Homo sapiens: one gene and its partners. The protein of the gene in region 1 interacts with the protein of each later gene in a biochemical or structural test. Each region holds a gene or a part of one and is shown in the gene's direction. Other genes may lie near its edges.

Region 1 (4,917 bases):
ACTAAAAAGAGTGGAGAGTGAAACAAGAAAAAGAAAGGAAACACGAAGAATAACGTATTACTCAGGTTCTTCAAAGAAACAGAACCAACAGAATAGAGAGATAGAGAGGTTTACATTTTTAAGAATTGACTCACATGATCATGGGGATTAGCAAATCTTAAACCTGTAGGACAGGCTGGCAGCCTAGAAATTCTGGTAGGATCTTTACGTTGCACTGTTGAGAAGAATTCTTTATTCTTCAGGTAACCTATCCTATCAGTCTTTGTTCTTACAGCCTTCAAGTGGTTGAATGGAGCTCACCCACATTATGGACTATGATTTGCTTTACTCAAAGTCTGCTGACTTACATGTTAATCACATCTAAACAAAATACCTTTACAGCAACATTTTGTGTGATTAGTGTTGACCAAACAATGGGCCACCATAGTATAGCCAAGTGGACACAAAATTAACCATCACAAATGACACTCTACTTTCTTTCATTCATTATGGACCCTCAACATCAAATCAAGCTATGATTCCTGACTTGCTGTTGAAGAACCGTGTGTGTGTGTGTGTGTGTGTGTGTGTGTGTGTGTGTGTGTGTGTGTGTGTGTTTGACTGTTATTAACTGTCTGAACTTTTCCAGGGCTCCCAGAAAGGAAGACCCAGTGGACGTGTGGTCACACAGTATCACTACACGCAGTGGCCTGACATGGGAGTACCAGAGTACTCCCTGCCAGTGCTGACCTTTGTGAGAAAGGCAGCCTATGCCAAGCGCCATGCAGTGGGGCCTGTTGTCGTCCACTGCAGGTGAGTCTCAGAGATGTGCCTCTAAACCCATAGAATTGCTTATACTTGCAAAAAGGAAATCAATGGAACAAAGCTTTTGCCCAAATGGGAATGATTTCTTGAAATGAGGGTGATGAAATTATATGTTCATTTTCATAAGTATTGATCACTAGGAAATGAACATGCCAGACTCAGAATTGGATTGCTGAATATTTCTAAGCACCACATATTTTTTGATGTTGATTATTTTATTTGATTGTTCAACTGCATTTCAGCTTATTAACTATTTGAGGCAGGTGGAACAATGTTTTTGTTGTTAAACAAATATTTACCTCAACATATAATACCATGGGATAAAAATGCTTGAGCTACAACCCCTGTCCCTAGGAGTTAAAATTCTGTTTTAGAATTATTATGCCAGGCTTGTATCACAGAAGCCAAAGCACACAGATTGTGAGAAATTTGGCAAAATATATTTAAGTTGTTTTTAAACATTTTGGGACCAGAATCCCTTTTTCATTTTCTTGAGTTTTAATACATTACATTGAATGTATTGTCAATTCATTGTTGCCAAGATTTTTTAATTTCCAAGACTAGGTTGATAAATAGAAATAATGATGTTTCAATGAAAGAGGAAAAATGTTGAAAATCCTTATTTAATGTTTTCAGTTAAAATAATAATAGCAGTTAATATTTATTGAGTGCTGACTGTGTGCCAAGCCTTAGATCACAAAAATCAAATTTGTTTCTATGTGAAGTATTGTTATCAAAGCAGTGTGTTTTTAGAGAATCAAGTGTTTGCCTTTGATATATAGCTTATCTAACACATTCTAATTACCATCTCAGGAGTTAAATTTGAGAGACCCATCTTGAGGCTTTTTAATCTGTTAGCCTGATTATAAACTGAGGAAAACAGGAAGATGCAAGAAAAATAGTGCTGAAGGTCAGGGATTGTTTCCTAGCAAACGGAGAAGGACCAGGCTATTGTGCAGAGCAGGTGCTAATTTTCCACTCTAGCACTTCCTACTTGTCGGAACATTTGAAAAGAATCCCTGTCCGTGAATTCTGTCCCTCTGCTAGAGGCTTTGAAGAAGTCGATAGATAATGGCCCTTTAGAAATAACTGAAGTCATGCTTTATTCCTCACAATCTCACTGAAATGATATTTTCAGCAGAAAGCTTTATCAAATTCTTTTTCCCATTAACGCAGAAATCTTTACAAACATGTCTACCTGGAAACATAGACCTAGGGACTTTTTCTTTTCAGAATTTGGTGAAGTTAAAGCTTTCACTTTTGTCAGATTAAATGTCTATTTGCCACACTCTGATACATAATATTTTCATTGTACAATATACAATGAATAATAAATATGGTTTTTGAAAGTTTTAAAATCTCCAACAGATATAGTGAGGTTGTTTTGCAATTAGACACATGACAAAACATTAGAAAGGGTACTTCTAAATTTGTTGTGTAAAGCATTACGCTTAATTACTAAACTGTTTACAATATTGAATTGCCAAATGTATTGTGTGGCTCACTCGCTTGAAGAAGGAAGTTATTTTAATCAACATGACAACCAGTAGTGATCTATTTTTCAAATTTATTTTATGCTTAACATTGAAATATTTATTTCTTGGTCTTCTCTTCAGTGCTGGAGTTGGAAGAACAGGCACATATATTGTGCTAGACAGTATGTTGCAGCAGATTCAACACGAAGGAACTGTCAACATATTTGGCTTCTTAAAACACATCCGTTCACAAAGAAATTATTTGGTACAAACTGAGGTATGATTTTTAAAAAGATGATTTTATTCATCTAAGGTATGGAAATGTCACTAAAATGTAGGTGTATTCATCTCCTAGGACTGCAAAACAAAGTAATACAAACTGGGTGGGTTAGAACAACAGAAGTTTATTGTCTCATAGTTCTGATGTCTGTAGGCCCATGCCCTTCCAGAAGCCTCTAGAAGATTCTTCCTTGCCTCTTTCATCTCCTGGTAGCCCCATGCATTGCGTGGCTTGTGGCAGCACAATTCCAGTCTCAGTCTTCACTTGGCTGTTTCCCTCTGTGTCTGTGTCTGTATCCAAATTTTCCTCCTCTTATAAGCATACCAGTTATCCTCCTCCTCCAGTTGATCTCATCTTAACTGATTACATCTGTAACAAACTTTTATGCAAATAAAATCACACTCTGAGTTATCAGGCGGTTAGAGCTTTAATATATCTTTGTGGGGGGACACCATTCAACCCATGACACCAGTAACTGCAGCTATGTCATGAATGAGCCAGATAAATTTTATCTGTTTTGTGACCCCAAATAGGGAATATCCTTTAAAATGACACTGGTCACAGAGAAGATACAGCAAAAGTCTAAGTAGAGTGGTCCACACACATCCTTGCTAGCAAAAATCTCAAGTTCTTCATATACATAGTGGATGAATCAATTCATTTTTTAAAAAAATATGAATTATGCTTAAATTATATCCATTTTAAGCCCATATAGTTTACCCGTAAGTGACAGAACAGTGTCAGCAAATCTGCATTTTATCTTCACTGTTTCTAAATAAAAATGAACTTAAATGGAAACCTATGAATGGCAGCTTGAAAGCAATCAGAAACACATGGCTGAGTGGGCTTCAAAACGAAACCACACCAAACATCCTTCCATCCATTATCCTAAGCAAACTTACACAGGAACAGAAAACCAAATACCACATGTTCTCACTTATAAGTGGGAGCTAAATGATGAGAACACATGGAGACATAGAGGGGAACAACACACACTGGGGCCTTTCAGAGGGTGGAGGATGGCAGGAGGGAGAGAATCAGGAAAAATAACTAATGGACTAATGGGTATGAGCCTTAATACCTGGGTGATGAAATAGTCTATACAACAAACCCCCATGACACAAGTTGACCTGTGTAACAAACCTGCACATGTACCCCTGAACTTAAAATAAACATTAAAAAATAACATTCTGGTCATATAAGACCAAGAAAGAGTCCCGTATGTGAAATATCAGAGAACTATTAACTATATATAAAATTGAGTTAAATTGTATATGACAAGCGAAAAGGAGAGTTGGCGTTGCCAGAAGGGGTAGGCCCACCAGAAGTGTAGAAGTCAAGAAAGCCCTCTCATGAAGTATAGAGGTGTCAAGTTTGAAGGATAGGCAGAGAGGACATTCCTTTGCCTTGCCAACTCTTCCTGCCTCCTAACCTATTGTGTATTGCCAACAATACATAATAAATGAAGAGGTAAGGAATGAGAAGAGGTTCTTTCTTCTGTGACCACTTCCTTTCCTCTGTCTGACTTCCTTCCAGGTTTTGTAAGCAATCTTGTGTGGGTCTTCCCCCATTCTGTAAAACTCTCCTTGTCTGTCAATGGAAGGTACTATGTTTGTAGGTAGATACATATGAGGAAAACTTGAACTAATGTTGCTTATTGTCATTGTTTTGCCAGGAGCAATATGTCTTCATTCATGATACACTGGTTGAGGCCATACTTAGTAAAGAAACTGAGGTGCTGGACAGTCATATTCATGCCTATGTTAATGCACTCCTCATTCCTGGACCAGCAGGCAAAACAAAGCTAGAGAAACAATTCCAGGTGAGTCCTCTTGGAAGCCTCTTGGATGTCACTACAGAACTGAATGTCCCTGCATCTTCTCATTTGAGTTGACAGGGTCACGTTGAGTGGGCAGTATGGGTACAATGACTTTGTATTTGAGCCATCGTTGTTCCTTACTGTGGGCTACAGTGCCACATGGTAAATTTCAAGGAGAAACATAATTCTGAGCAGCAAGAGGAAAAGTTCTCAGAAACCTTAAACTAACTTTTATAAATGCAAACTTGGTCGAGAAAAGAAGGGCACAGAGCATAACAGAATGAACAGAAAGAACTTGTAAAACATACTATATAAGTGCTCTTTTTACTTTGAAAAAAAAAAACAGACCACTTAAACATGAGTGCGGTGGCTCAGGCTGTTCCTGATACTCTTTGGAAAAAATCTGTGTCTCACTTGAAACCCCTGGACCAAAGTAGTACACACTGGAATAATAGCTTCTTCAACCCCAGTTTCTCCCCCTCACCCTGTCTCAAGGCCATAAGCCAGAGACAAGAGCATGTTTTGTCCATATTGTACTT
Region 2 (4,917 bases), on another chromosome or scaffold:
AACAAAAATGCACACACAGCCGTTGGGACAAAGACACTTAACCTGGATAACTAGACGGGCACAGGCCATCCAGATTTTCAGAATATGCTGATACCTTGCTGTGCTCATCTGTCCTACTTCATGTGGTTAATTAAGGCACCCGCAGAACAGGAAACCAGTACACTATGAATCTGGTGTTTCCTCTTCCTAAGAAATGGGAAGGTAAGATACTGTATATGGGCAGCCATAAGAAAGACCATGGACGTTTTGCTCAATGGGCCTGGGTTTGAATCCTTACTAGCTAATTAACCACGAACAAGGGGCATATTTAACTCCTTTAAGCCTCAGTTTTTTCATCTGTAAAATTGGAATGATACCTTTTTGTTGTTGTTGAGACGGAGTCTTGCTCTATCACTAGGCTGGAGTGCAATGGCGCGATATTGGCTCACTGCAACCTCCACCTCCCAGGTTCGAGTGATTCTCCTGCCTCAGCCTCCCGAGTAGCTGGGATTACAGGTGCCTGCCACCACGCCCAGCTAATTTTTGTATTTTTAGTAGAGACGGAGTTTCACCATGTTGGCCAGAATGGTCTCGATCTCCTGACCTGGTGGTCTGCCAGCTTCATCCTCCCAAAGTGCTGGGATTACAGGCGTGAGCCACCACGCCCGGCTGGAATGATACTTATTTAAAGGATTATTTTTAGGATTACATGGGTTAATATGTTTAAAGTCCCTTGCAGATAGTAGATATTCAGTAGAGATACATACTTCTCTTTATTTGATTGTCATTGATAAGGCTGGCTGCACTGGGCCTTTGTAATTTCTTTTATAGCCCTTTTGGGTCAGTTACAGCTTTGCTTAGAAACAATTCATGGGTTTAGGCCCCACTCAAAAACATGTTTCAGTAAAACAATATTAATACTTATGGAATCCTCTATCTTCCTTCCTCAGAACTCATTAAAAACAATATCGATCAGTACCCTTTGCTACGTGTGGGTATAGATCTTTAGGTGTGGTCTGCATTAAAAGAGTTAATACAGGTGGCCGGGCACAGTGGCTCACACCTGTAATCCCAGCACTTTGGGAGGCCAAGGCAGGCAGATCACCTGAGGTCAGGAGTTTGAGACCAGCCTGACCAGCATGGAGAAACCCTGCCTCTACTAAAAATACAAAATTAGCCGGGCATGGTGGTGCATGCCTGTAATCCCAGCTACTCAGGAGGCTGAGGCAGGAGAATCACTTGAACCTGGGAGGTGGAGGTTGCGGTGAGCGGAGATCGCACCATTGCACCATTGCACTCCAGCCTGGGCAACAAAAGCGAAACTCCGTCTCAAGAAAAGAAAAAAAAAGAGTTAATACAGTTAAAGCACTTAAAACATAGCCCAGCAAATGATAAGTACTACAAAGATGTATGTAGGTATGTTAGGTGGATAAATAGGTAGTAGACAGACATACACATATATATGTATGAGTTAGCTAGTTTAATAAATCCACATTATTGTGTCCATCTCTCTCTGGACTTAATCTCAAGTATCGTAAAATATATGACCTCCTTCTTCCTCATTCACCCTCTAATAATAGAGGATTTTAGTCAAATTACTCACACAATCACAGAGAATTGGACCCTATTAGAAAATTTATTTTCAAATTTTACAAATATCAACTTTAAATCATTACATATACTGTTCACATTTTGTTTTCCAATAAACACAAGACAACATGCCCATCAGAATTGGGATGGATGTCTGTGTAATTGACGAAGTTTGTATTACAGAGGAAGATCTTAATGTATTTAGAATTTTGGGTGCTGACTCTTAAATAGCAAAGATCACTTATAAATTGTCAAATTTCCCATGAATGCTTAGTGGGCAGATATTTTATGAAGTTTAAATGAACTTTTCTTTAAGCCACTTGTTTTTTCATAATTTATATTTTGTAGGTTGCATGTTGTAATTGTATGAACCATGTCTTTAACAGGATAATAAGAACTCCAATTTACAGAATCCTTAAATTCCAAAGTCAGTTATATTAAATATAAAAATCTTAATTTAAACCAGTCTTCTTTTTCAAATAGAAAATAATCTAAATTAGCAGATTTCTTCCCCTTTATAAAGTTATTCTTAAGCATCATAGGTCTAATAATGGAATACACAAAGAACCTAGGTATGGTTTTGTTTTTTGAATGCTGGGGCTGAAAGAGACCCAAAAGATAATCCAGTTCCATTCCTATATTTTACAGATGAGGTAACTGAGGACAATCATAATCCAGGCCTTGCCTTCAGATTTGCTAGATTTTTTTTTAACATGCTAAATTTAAATATTTCTGTTCCCTCTCAGCTGCTGTTTAATTTCCCCTGTCTACCTACCTGACAGAAGCCATTGTTCTTGTGGCTAGCCATCAGTAAAGCTGAGGAAATTTGCCTTACCTTGTTGAAGTATTGGCAAGCAGACTGTGAGCTCCTTGCCAGTGCTTATCAGCATGCTTGGCACACCTGTGCAAGGACTCAGTCAAGTAACTTGTCCATTGCAGACATTGAAAGTCTAGAGGTAATTTCCAGACATCCTCATGTGGTGCCATATTTTTAAATGGCACACCCCATAAACTTAAATAATCTAATTTCTTCCATGCACACTGTACTCCCTAAGGGACAGCTATTAGATGGCCAGGCCTGTTCCAACCCCTGGACTTTCATCACTGTATGGTGCAGAGCTTTTGGTATAAATGTGTAATCATATGACTGAGCCAAAAAAAGAGAGAGTGGTAATATATCAAAATTTAAAAAAATTTTAATGAGTTATAAATCTTAATATAGCCATCTTAGCCATAACCACAAATAAACTCATTTTTTCTGTTAAAATACTTGACAGAGTCCTTGCAATTGAATGTCTTTGTTCAACAAAAACTGTATTAAGTGTTTTAAATTTAAAATCTAATCTTATGCAAATAGCTGGTGGTCAAAACCTTTTTCCATCAAAAGAAGATCTTTGGTTTGACTTCATATTCTGGGATGTTTGTAGGTACCTGGAATGGAAACACAAAAGTAGCCATAAAGACTCTTAAACCAGGCACAATGTCCCCCGAATCATTCCTTGAGGAAGCGCAGATCATGAAGAAGCTGAAGCACGACAAGCTGGTCCAGCTCTATGCAGTGGTGTCTGAGGAGCCCATCTACATCGTCACCGAGTATATGAACAAAGGTTGGGCAACACCTCTCCTGTCTCCAGCTCACAGTGCCTTAAGGGGTTGTTTAGGGGAGAGAAATGGAAGTTTCCTACTTGCTACTTTTCTAGTTTCTGCCTGGGTCAAGTATTCCCATTAGGAACCACCAGTTATGTGCTCGTTAATGAAAACATTTTTTAAAACAGACTAACCTTGCGTTTACCCCACCCCAAATCCTTATGAAATGCCAAATACTTTTTACATGTTATGTGTGTCAGAAATTCAAGCTCCTCTCCATAATTAAAACATTCATTTTTAATATCAGGGTGGTACGGAGGGTTATGATAGTTTGCTGTTATTTTGAATGTAGTAGCTTTTGTTACATTTCCTTTTTGCAGGGCTAAACAATTAATATCAGACACTGGTCTCTAAGCTAAGTTTAGTCTCCATCATTTCAACATCTTTTTTATTTCCAGCTCTCTTCTTAAACGTCAGGCGATGAAATTACATGCTTTCAGAGACCACATTTATTCTCACATTCTCTCCCCTACAACCCCTCTGTCTTCCTAATCAAACCAGCATTGTTAGGGATAAGGCCAGAGATCATTTTGTTTTGGAAAAATAGATGAACCAAACAAGAAACAGCCTTAAAAGGCAATACATTGTTTATCAGAGGATACCAGTGTAATTTTTCTTTTCCATGTACTTTCTTTTAAAATTTAATGGGAATTTTTTTTTCTGGCAAACGGTTTGTCCTTTGTATCCAGGGTTATTTTGTAAATAACTTTGTGATTAAAGCATAAAATATCACTGATGACCATCATAAGCCTCCAGCTTCTGCAAATGATTATCCCTGCTTTGGTGTTAGTTCTAAGCCTTCTTAGGCTGTGTTATAATAGTGGCTCTGAAGCTTCCAATGTTTCATTTCAGATGTCTGATTTAAGGCTTGGCTGGCTGTGATCTAATTAAGGGGAACCATCTGCCCCACCCATATTCTTCAGATTGTCTTTTCTTGATTCAAAATCTGTAAATAAGCTAAGCTAGTGAGTCTCAAACTTTACCTTGTATTATTAGAATCACCTGTAGGCCTTCTTAAAACCCAAGTTTCTGGACCCAACCTTCAAAGTTTCTGATTTACTCGATCTGGGATGGGACCTGAGAATTTGCATATCTAACAAGTTCCCTTGTGTTATTGTAGCTGCTGGTCCCAGGACCACAGTTTTGGACCACTCAGCTGGGCTGTATTTTCCCCACATCAATTCTTTGTGCAGGGGTGATTGGGGAATGGGATTGAAGAGGTGCAGTTCTTCATAGGTTCCTCTTTATGACATACAGGGAGATTGAGTCCCATTTCTTCTAGTTTTATCAAATATATGTTGTTATTCCTAGAAATGGAATTAATGCTGTTTGTTTTTAAAAGGTAACTGTTACTTCTCCATGCCTATACTTTTTTCTACCCTGCTTTTTTATATAAACCTTTTTGTCCCCCCATGTGGATGGCATTATTCCATTTGACTACCTTATTACTTTTAATAAGAAAACCAAATACAGCTCTCTGTTGGGAATTATCTTTCAAAGTAAATTGAAATGATTTTATGTTTTGTTCATAGGAAGTTTACTGGATTTCTTAAAAGATGGAGAAGGAAGAGCTCTGAAATTACCAAATCTTGTGGACATGGCAGCACAGGTAGGCCCTGCAGGGTAACTTGATGTGCCATAGATTTAATGACGTGTCTAAGTACATTGGGTCGTGGTGTAACATGTCCTGTTCCCTGGGTT
Region 3 (4,917 bases), on another chromosome or scaffold:
CCAACATGGTGAAAAAACCCCATCTCTTCTAAAAATACAAAAAATTAGCTGGGCATGGTGGTGCAGCCTGTAATCCCAGCTACTCAGGAGGCTGAGACAGGAGAATCGCTTGAACCCGGGAGGTGGAGGTTGCAGTGAGCCGAGACTGCGCCACTGTACACCAACCTGGTCAACAAGAGCGAAACTCCGTCTCAAAAAAAAAAAAAAAAAGGATGACTGTGGGGGTATAGCTTAGATTGGAGGTGAAGGAAGGCCTCTTTGAGAAGAAGGGTTGTTTACACAGACACTTGGAAGATGAGAAGTTAATCAGGCAGAGGTAAAGGCAGGTGTGAAAGTCCTGAGGCCCTGTAGCTGGAGCCCAGTGGGGAAGAGGCATGATGTGGGTGGGGAGGGAGGCACTGGCTTTAGCGGCCTTGTTAAAGATTTTGGATTTCATCCTAAGGGGACTGCTCTTTGAAACTGCTAGATTTAGCTATGATAAATGAGTTCCATAAGGCATTATTCTCCTTGATTCAGGCTGCTCTCCTTGGAGTTAGAGTTTGTCAGTCAAGAACGCTTGCCAATCCCAAATAAAATGATGCTTAGAGCCGTTTAAAAACTGAGCCTGCGTTGTCCTTTAGTAACAGTGAAGTGTGTATGAAGATGCACCAGATCAGTCTTCTCAGGACAACAGGTCAGAAAACGGAGGAATTTTTTTTTATTGCATGCACTGGATGACTCAGAAGCTAACTCTCATTGTTGACTGAAATGAGAGCGGCCTGTGCTTGCCTGGATAAAAAGTCCTGTCCCAGTGGCTGGATGAGGGGACGATCTGAACCTTGAATCAGGAGGCTGCTTTCGTTTCCTAAAACCCAGATCTCTGGTAAACAAATGATGGGAGAGCCAGAAAGGAAGGTTAGGAGGTCAGGATCTCGGTACTGGTTTCCACATCCTGCCACATTCCAGGAGAGTTTTGCCTGATAAAGTCATAGCATGTGCGGGCCAGAAGGGACCTCAAGGATCAACTTGTCCTCATTTTTTGGGGTCAGGGTGCTGATGGGGAATGCACCATAATAGCGGCACCACACTAGCTGCGCTGAGGGCTAATCGGAAACTGTAGCTGCTGAAAACTGCATCAGATACTGAGGTTTAGGACCCAACTTGTGTGTCCTGGTTTGGTGCCTTGAAGAACCTGTTACCTGTGGTTCAGCCATAAGGAGACACCCAGGTGTTCATAAGATCTTCCTCAACTGGATCCCGAGAGTCAAGGGCCTTCTCCAAAGGGTGGCCAGAGCCCTGTGGGCACTGGGAGCCTGGGGGTGTTACTGCCACCTTGATCCTGCGGACTTGGAATTCCCATCCAGGAAGGTCTTGTAATGTGGAAAAAAAAAGTTGTGAACTTACCCTGGGATGATGACAGTAATATTTTTAGTATACCTTAGTTTAGAAAATCTAACCAGATACCTTGGTTAGAGATAGTACTCTGAGGTGAGTACTATTTCAAAATGAGTTTGGATCTTGTTCATTCTAATAGCATCTGTATTCACTTGAAAAATGGTTGTACATCAGTGTAGGAGATGTGATATGTATTGAGTCCGCATGTATTGCTCTGTAGGCAGGTGAATTTAAGGACCTATTGCAGTAATTGATTGGCTTCCCCCAAGCATCAATGATCTGTCAATTTGGAACCACTGGTTTTAGAAGCATCAGTCTGCAGAAAACCAGCCGTCTATAGGGAATGACCCTAGTCATTTTGGGAGATTAAACCAGTATAAACCTATACTACCATACTTTAGGATATCCTTGATTGCTTTTAACAATTTTTTTTTAAATTTTTATTTTATTATTATTATTATTTTTTGAGACGAAATCTCACTCTGTTGCCCAGGCTGGAGTACAGAGGCATGATCTTGGCTCACTGCAACCTCCACCTTCTGGGTTCAAGTGATCCTCCTGCCTCAGCCTCCTGAATAGCTGAGATCACACCCGGCTAATTTTTTTGTATTTTTGTTAGAGACAGGGTTTCACCATGCTGGCCAGGCTGGTCTCAAACTCGTGGCCTCAGGTGATCCGCCTGCCTTGGCCTCCCAAAGTGCTGGGATTACAGGCATGAGCCACCATGCCTGGTCAACAATTTTTTAAATTAAAAAGTAATTCAATATTATTGTAAAAAACATTGCAAAACTGTATAACTGTGAACAATTTAGTGTGCAGTGTTTCCACTTTCTTTTGTATATATAACATTATTAAGATTTTTAAAGAAATAGGGTATTATAGTATATAATGTTCTCTAAATGTGTGTGTGTGTGTTTTTTTAAATGTAATTGTTAACTAATTTTAAGGAAGCAAACGTGGTTCAGTGGGAAGGACATCAGATCTGTTCGGGGTTTGTTTCCTGGCTCAGTAATACACTAGTTGGAGGACCAGTAATATAATAATATACTAGTTGGGTGATCCTGGGTAAGTCATAGGTCTTTCTAAGCCTCAGATCCTGGTCTTGGAAATGGGGACTGCTATTTGTCCTCCTTTCTCATAAGGTTGCTATAGGGATACAATGAGATCATATTAGAAAAGCCCTCTTTGTCAATGATAATATAAATGATTGTTATTATTTAAGCTATGATTTCAGCCCTCTTTTCTTTTTCAGGGCTTTGCTCCATATCAGTGAATACTTAACTTGGTGGTAACTTAGTGGTTTGGAGACAAATAGTAACTAGCCTGCTTTCCCCTTTTTTTCTAGGTCACTCCTGGAAGCAAGGCGGCTCTAGCTAATTTATGTATTGGAGATGTAATCACAGCCATTGATGGGGAAAATACTAGCAATATGACACACTTGGAAGCTCAGAACAGAATCAAAGGCTGCACAGACAACTTGACTCTCACTGTAGCCAGGTGAAGCCTATGGAAACGTTTTGTTCATTTCTGATTGACTAGAAGCTGTTTGTGGGCAGGGACTGCCTTCCCTATCTCAGAATCCCCCAGACCTCCTAGCTCAGTGCCATGTATATACTATAGGCATGCCAAAAGGTCTGTGGAATTTGAACTTCAGATTGCTTATTTCCCCTCTATTTTTTTTTTTTTTTTTTTTGAGACGGAGTCTCACTCTGTTGCCCAGGCTGGAGTGCAGTGGTGCAATCTCAGCTCACTGCAACCTCTGCCTCCCGGGTTCAAGTGACTCTCCTGCCTTAGCCTCCTGAGTAGCTGGGATTACAGATGTGCACCACCACACCCAGCAAATTTTTGTATTTTTAGTAGAGATGGGGTTTCACCATGTTGGCCAGGCTGGCCTCGAACTCCTGACCTCAGGTGATCCACCTGCCTTGGCCTCCCAAAGTGCTAGGATTACAGGTGTGAGCCACCGTGCCCAGCCCCCCTCTGATTTTCACGGTGCTTATGATGTGGGCTTCTTTCAGTAAGATACTTGCATTTTCACTTGATCCAACTCAACCAAAATTTTGAGTAAGTAAAATGTCCTGGCCAGGTGCGGTGGCTCTCTTTGTAATCCCAGCACTTTGGGAGGCCGAGGCAGACAAATCACTTGAGGTCTGGAGTTTGAGACCAGCCTGGCCAACATGGTGAAACCCTATCTCCACTAAAAATTAAAAAATTAGCCAGGTGTGGTAGCGTGCACCTGTAGTTCCAGCTACTCGGGAGGCCGAGGCAGGAGAATCACTTGAACCCAGGAGGCAGAGTTTGCAGTGAGCTGAGATGGCGTCACTGCACTCCAGCCTGGGCGACAGAGCGAAACTCCATCTCAAAAAAAAAAATGTCCTTAGGATGCTGCTGCTACTGCATTGTGCTGAGCAGTGGGTACCATGCCAGGAGATTGCAATAACAGAGAAAAACTTGAACACATTAGCAGCAGAGTACTGAGTGTAACTTTAGGTACATGACAAGCAAGGAGCGCTGGGGATAAAAGAATGAATGAGGGTAGCACCTTGGGAGCTGTAATTAGGGTAGAATTTCCATTCTTCTTTCATTTAGCCTTGGAAGGGGTCCCGCAAAGGCAGGATTTCGGAAGTGATTTGGTTCAACCCTCAGTTGGCTCCCTGTTTCCTACTGCATCAAATTCAGATGTTTCATTCTGATCACCTGTTATCTCACTAACCTTAGCTGCCACAGCTCTTTGTCATGGAGCCTTTGGTTAGATTCTCATCTGTGAAGTATGTTTTTTGCTTTTTTTTTTTTGCTTTGTGGCACAGGACTGGCAGGTGGATCGAGTGTGGGGGAGTATATAAAAATATTTTGTACACTTCAGAGACCTACCCCATGAGAGGTACACTGTGTTATTACTACCCCCTCAAAAGCACATCTGCCCTTCATTCTCATCTCCATTTCTATCTTTGTCCAAATCCTCTCCTTCAAGCCCGAGTTCAGGACATTCATTCATTCATTGATTAATTGATTTTTTATTTGTTTACCGGCATGTTGAAAAGGGACATCTTGTATATCTGGCATAGACATTGTGACAAATATAAAGTTAAGTATGGCCAGGTATGGTGGCTCTAGTCTGTAATCCCAGCACTTTGGGAGGCCGAGGTGGGTAGATCACCTGAGGTTAGGAGTTCAAGACCAGCCTGGCCAACATGATGAAACCCTGTTTCTACAAAAACACAAAAAAATTAGCTAGGGATGATGGCAGGTGCCTGTAATCTCAGCTACTCGGGAGACTGGGCTGGGAGAATCGCTTGAGCCTGGGAAGCGGAGGTTGCAGTGAGCCAAGATCACGCCATTCATTGCACTCCAGCCTGGGCGACAGAGCGAGACTCTGTCTCAAAAAATAAATAAATAAAATAAATAAAGATAAGTATAAATATTTTCTACCTGCAAGAGAGGAAACAACGACACTAATGAAAACTGAGACTAAAGTAAAATCATTGCTCTGTGGTTGGTACAAAGAAAATAGTTTATAAGAGCAAAAGAGGGGCGTTCTTCTCT
Region 4 (5,391 bases), on another chromosome or scaffold:
ATTCACTTCTTGTTAATTTACTCAATTGTATCTAGCACTGGATACTGCTACAGCCACTGGGCTATTTAGTAAATTACCATCTGACTGAAATACAGTCCTTGTATTTTATTCTATTTTTCTTTTCTTGATTATTAGCTGACTTGTTTGGTGACAGGCTGTCAAGAACACGCAAATTTCATGGCCATATAAAAATGATCTCGTCAACGTCTTCCCTCGAATTGAAGCGGAGGATTTAGTTGTAGATTTGGTTTGGCACCTTCCACTTTAAGGAAGATGTAAAAACTAAGGCGCAGGTACTCCAGCTGCAGGGAGTGTTTTTTGTCCCCGCTCCCCTGTCCCCCATAAAGAAACAGGACCTCAGGTGGTGGGCGGGCGGGGAAGGAGAAGGGATGTTTCTAAGTCTACAGGGGAGAGTGTAGAAAGAAAGAAGGAAAAGGTAAGAGGACTCCACAGTTTCTAGGTTTTGTTCTTCTTTTTTTCCCTCTGGACAGCGGTGGCAGCTGATCAGACACAATAGCTGGCAGTCCCCGGCCGCAGTGAGGATAAAAATGACCCTCAACAGCACCAGCAGGAGCACCGAGAAGGGGAGGGGAGTGTGTATGGGAGGGGGCGAGGATGAGGGTGACAAGGTGACAAACGCTGCCTCTGACTGCGAGCAACTCCCCCTCCAGCCCCGCGAGGCTCGGAGCCGGGGAGCCACCTCCCCGGAGCGGGGCGGGGTGGGAAGGAGAGGCCGAGGGGGCGGTGGCCTTCACCCGGGGGCGGGGAAGAGGGCGGAGGGAAGCCTGATTTACCAGCCCCTGATTGGTTCGCGTTCTCTCGTCGCGTCTCCCGATTGGGTAATTTGCAGCGGGAGATGTTGTGAGGCACGGCGGGGCGGAGCGAGCTGCCGGGGTCTGTGACAAGGCCCGGGAATTGGGTGGGGAGGGTGGCGGTTGTGCCGCGGCTCCGGAGCCGCTGTGACCTGGAGTGTGGCGGACAGAGAAGCGCAGCCGCCTCTCCACAGTTCCGCTAGCCGCGCCAAATTCGCTCAGCCGCTCTGCAGAATTTATAAAAGGGAAAGAACTGAATGAGCAACGCTTGGCTAACTTCCCCCTTCCCACCACAGGAAGAGATTTTTGCTGTGAGGCGTGAGGGGACACTCCCTTATCTGGAAGTCCCACGTCTCGTCGCAGCTTCATTGCCTTCCCGCTGCAAAAAAGGGGTGGGGGCACAATTTGCCAAGCCCTGTCCCCCAATCTAGGACCTTTGATCCCTGGAGTCTGCAGATGTCGCTGTTATAGGCTTGTCCCCCTCTCCACCCCAGACGTCTACCACCAGGTCTCCTTTCCCGGGAGCAAGCCCATCCCTGGACGCTGCCGTTCAGCGCTTGGGAGACTGCAGGGGCGGGGAGCGTTGTGTGCCTGGTTTTGGGGTGCTGGGGGGCGAGGGCTTGTAGGTCCCGCGACCCACGGGGAGGGGGCAGGCGAGCACCCCGCTCCGGCCTCCGGCTAATCCCCCTTCTCCAGCGTCGGTTCCCCGGTCCCGTGTTATTCAAGACAGAAAATATTCAGCCCCAGAGCCTCCCCTGGGGAGGGGAGGGGAAGGAGGTGGAGTGGGAGGAGGTGGATCCAGGGAGGAAGAAGCGAGAAATCCGCCCCCGGGAAACAGCTCCGCGCGGCCACGGAGCGAGGCGCTTCTGTCACTTGGCGTTCGCGGGCGCCGGAGCTGGGCCCCGGCCCGGCCCGGCGAGGCGAGGGGAGAGTCCGGCGGCCGCCGCCCCGCCCCACGCCCTCCTGCGGCGGCCGAGAGCCCGGGGCCGGCCGGGGCAGGTCGCGGCGGTGCCTGGGAGCGGCCGGCCGGGGGCGGCGGCCTCGGAGCGCGGCGGCGGCGGCGGCGGCGGCGGCGGGCAGCGCGGGATCGTCCGGCTGCGGGGTCCGGCTCACGCCGGGCGGGCGGGCGGGGCGCGCTGTCCCGGAGCCGGCCAGCCCCGTGCGGATCCACTCGTCCCGCTTCCTCTGGTGCGTGTCTGGTTTCTTTTCCGTCTCAGCCGAGAGGGCGCTGCGCTCGCGGGCCGTGGAGTGCCCGGCTTGCCGCGGGCTCTCTCCCTTCCCGCCACAGGCCACCCGGCCGGGCGCTGGCTCGGGGCCGGAGGGAGCCCGCGGCGGGCGCCCGGCGGGGGCGGAGGGGCCGCGCCCGCGTGTGCGGAGCAAGGGCGGGCGGCGGGGCGGAGGGAAGGGCACAAAGGCCGGCGGTGGGCGCTGGGGTCCGGCCGGCCAGCCTTGGAGGAGGGGCGCCTGGGGCCGCTCATGAATATTAACCGAGCCTGCGGCCTAGCGCGTCCCGGCCGGGCCCGGCGCCCGGCCAGCGTCTCCGCTTCAGCTCGCCGCCGCGCTTCGGCCGCCGGGCCCGAGCGGGCGGGAAGGGTAAGGCCCCCGGTTTTGTCTCGCCCCGGGGCTCCTAGCACCTTTGAGAAAGTCCATATTGGGGCCGCTCTCCTCGGGAGCTCGAGGTCCCCGACCCGCCTCAGGAAGGGGCGGGGGAATCGTGGGGAGGTGGGTGGTGGTTTGCTTTTTCTCGTTTTTTCCCCCTAGGTGGCCACAGGGGAAGGGAAGCCGTGTCGAGTGGTAGTTGGGGGAAAAGCCGCGACTTCAGAGTTGCTCGGGTGTAGCTCCAGAATCATGCCCTGGAGCGGGAGCGGCGCCGGCGTCCCACCCGCGGCCGCGCACGCCTCCCCGGCCGTCCCCACCCAGCCCCGCCGCGGGCCAAGGAAAACAGCCGCCTCCTCGGGGACGCCGGCCGGGGCGGAGGGGCGGAGGGGCGGCGCCCGAGTCACCCGGAGACGCCGCCGAGCCCACGCCGGCCCCAGCCAGGCTGGCTTTGTGCTTGCGTTTTTGGGGGGCGGAGGGGAGCGAAGAGGGGGCTTGGAAAGTGTGATCCCATTTCAGCCTCGTGGGGGAGAAAACTTCACCGAAGTGTCCCTGTCTGGGTGATGCAGAAAACAACATGCACAGCCCTCTGCTCTACCCAGGAAAGACATGAATTAAAATGCACTTGAATGGGGAACATTTTTTCTTGAAGGCTGCATAACAGCCAGGTGTGTTTGACGCAACCGCTGGGCAGTTTCGAGATTTCTCTTTTTTAAACACCCCCTCGAATTTATAGGCTTTTTGTTTGTTTACGTTAAAATTTTTTTTTGTTTGTTTTGCTCGGGAGGAAACGCGAACTTGGTGTGGACATGTGGGCAAGACAGTGATAGGCGCCTGGAGAAAGTTCATGACCTTTAACTTCTCGTTTTCCTAGGATCTCTCTAGGAGCTGACACTCGAACCTTCACGACCCATTCGGATTTTTCCAGGACTCAGGAGTGGCACTGGGAAGAAGGGGACCGCTTTCTGCAATTGGCCTCGACACTGGCTGCCAAGAAGACCTGTCGCCTTTGTTTTTAAGTCTCCAGAAATGGAAGAAGAAGGCGAAGTCAGTTGAAGTCACGAGAAATCAGCGAGGCATTTGAAGGCGCTTCCTGAAAACCTTTATTCCCTGGCACGTTGTCTGTTTCAACAGCCCTGCCCCTCCTCGGAGCCTGCTTGTGGAATTCTTCCCCTTCGGGTGTGTGGTGGCATTCCCCGCCACGTCCAATGTGGACTCCAAAGGATTTGTCCCTTCTTTGTCATTTGAAATGAAATGATGGCCACGCGTCGGACTGGTCTGTCTGAGGGAGATGGTGACAAGCTCAAGGCCTGCGAGGTAAGCGCGGAGCCAGCGTTCCTGGCCGGCAGGGCGGTGGCCTGTGTCTTGAGCGTCCTGCAAGTTGGGGGTTACCGGCCACGGGGCCTCACTAGGGGCTTCCCGGGGCTTTGAGCCTGTTGGCGGGAGCGCCCCAGCTTAACCAGTAGCGAGGAGAAGCCTGGCCCACGTCTGTTTCCAGGGACTCCCGTGTTTCTTTTGCAAGAACATGTCCCGCAGTTTGGAATGTCCTCATCTTGGTCACCCCTTCTCAGAGCCAGGAATTCTCCCGTCTCTGTGGCTGTGGATGCTACAAGCCTGAGAATGGGCACCTCAGTATCCGTTTTCCTTCAGTCCCCTTCCGAGATATTTGGAGTTGAGCTGGTTGGGGGTGGCTTTCAGCATTTGTGTCTGCTCCAAGGTGCAGAGAGGGCAGCTAGTATGCTTGTTGCACCTGGAACTTAGTCTTTCTTTGGTACTGACGAGGGGAGTCTGGCTGCTGTTGCTGCAGATCTCTGCTTTAGGTAGAAAAAGAAGTGTTTTTCCGTGAATAGTTTAAGCACAGCCTTGGAAAACGACCTTACAGAGTCGTAATTCCAACTCCCGGAAAAATCTCCTGCCTTTACTGTTCTCTTATTTATACCCTCCCTTTCACTACTCTGAAGTTCTGTGAGCTGCTCTGGGGTGTCAGGTGGGTTGCGTTGCTGGTTAGGGTAGCATCTAGCATCTAACATCTTCCCAAGGGCCCAGAGATTTTACTCCAGACTTCCTGAAAATTTTTGAGCAGGCAGGACAGAAATCATAGAAAATACATTGATTTATGACACGCATATACTCTGTTGCCTCTCACCTTTTTTTTTTTTCCTCGTGTTTGGAGATTGAAGTATTCGGAATTTACTTCTATTATGAATATACTATGTTTATCATTGGCGGTTCCTGTAATTTGTTCTTTAAATAGACTGAATATTGTTATCCTTTAAATTTTACTTTTGAGATGCCTATGTTTTCATTGAAGGGTTGAGGATTACTTTAGACAATAACATACCCAAATGAACCCTCATTCACTGTCTCACTTTCTTTTGCACCGGATGTTAAATTTTAACTTCATAGTCCTTGAAACAAGGGCTGGCTCTAAGTGTGTGAGTTTTGGCATTTTAATAAAAATGAATCAGAAGTTAAATTTTGGTTCATAAAGCAAGCGGAGAAACTTGCTTCATGCAGCTTACTTCATGTCGAATTAGAAAGTTTATGCAGAAAACGTTGTGAGGTACAGTGTGCTATTACTGTACAATTTATTAGGCAGAACTGTAGGTTTACATTTAGAATCAGTGTTTTACTTTTTGACATCTGTAAACACCTGCTTGCAGGCAAAAGCATGATTAAGTGGAACACCACAATCCTCTGATCACGGTAAACCATAATAACTCCTTTTGGAAGGCCTACCTGCAACCTGGTGATTGCTTAATGTGTATTGCAGTTACATAATAATATGTATTGTGGTCCTGAAGCCTTATTTGTCATTGTCTTGTGAATACTTTAATTAGCATTGTATTTGCATTCTGTTTGCAAGAACTAATGTTATTTGATTTTTTTTTTTTTTTTTGGTCATTTAAGAGATGTCCTGAAACCAAGAATTTAGACACATCTTGTCCTTGGCTAGCAAGCAGTATTTCCAGTTTGTTGCACA

The links. Proteins that work in one complex are often made in the same cells at the same time.
Region 2: of the proteins of PTPRZ1 (region 1) and FYN, one has a biochemical effect on the other in vitro, tested with the Homo sapiens proteins (one study listed by BioGRID).
Region 3: the proteins of PTPRZ1 (region 1) and PDLIM1 interact in a test that uses a peptide from one of them, tested with the Homo sapiens proteins (one large-scale study listed by IntAct).
Region 4: the proteins of PTPRZ1 (region 1) and ARHGAP21 interact in a test that uses a peptide from one of them, tested with the Homo sapiens proteins (one large-scale study listed by IntAct).

The regions. Positions count from the first base shown.
Region 1 is NC_000007.14:122,040,188-122,045,104, forward strand, and holds part of PTPRZ1 (receptor-type tyrosine-protein phosphatase zeta isoform 1 precursor), read left to right. Parts: intron 1-628; coding exon 629-792; intron 793-2,420; coding exon 2,421-2,556; intron 2,557-4,234; coding exon 4,235-4,381; intron 4,382-4,917. UniProt on the Homo sapiens protein: Protein tyrosine phosphatase that negatively regulates oligodendrocyte precursor proliferation in the embryonic spinal cord. Required for normal differentiation of the precursor cells into mature, fully myelinating oligodendrocytes.
Region 2 is NC_000006.12:111,694,536-111,699,452, reverse strand, and holds part of FYN (tyrosine-protein kinase Fyn), read left to right. Parts: intron 1-2,996; coding exon 2,997-3,176; intron 3,177-4,748; coding exon 4,749-4,825; intron 4,826-4,917. UniProt on the Homo sapiens protein: Non-receptor tyrosine-protein kinase that plays a role in many biological processes including regulation of cell growth and survival, cell adhesion, integrin-mediated signaling, cytoskeletal remodeling, cell motility, immune response and axon guidance.
Region 3 is NC_000010.11:95,269,587-95,274,503, reverse strand, and holds part of PDLIM1 (PDZ and LIM domain protein 1), read left to right. Parts: intron 1-2,719; coding exon 2,720-2,871; intron 2,872-4,917. UniProt on the Homo sapiens protein: Cytoskeletal protein that may act as an adapter that brings other proteins (like kinases) to the cytoskeleton. Involved in assembly, disassembly and directioning of stress fibers in fibroblasts.
Region 4 is NC_000010.11:24,720,171-24,725,561, reverse strand, and holds the start of ARHGAP21 (rho GTPase-activating protein 21), read left to right. Parts: upstream 1-1,674; 5' UTR 1,675-2,000; intron 2,001-2,340; exon of another isoform or gene 2,341-2,405; intron 2,406-2,813; exon of another isoform or gene 2,814-3,076; intron 3,077-3,282; 5' UTR 3,283-3,662; coding exon 3,663-3,725; intron 3,726-5,391. UniProt on the Homo sapiens protein: Functions as a GTPase-activating protein (GAP) for RHOA and CDC42. Downstream partner of ARF1 which may control Golgi apparatus structure and function. Also required for CTNNA1 recruitment to adherens junctions.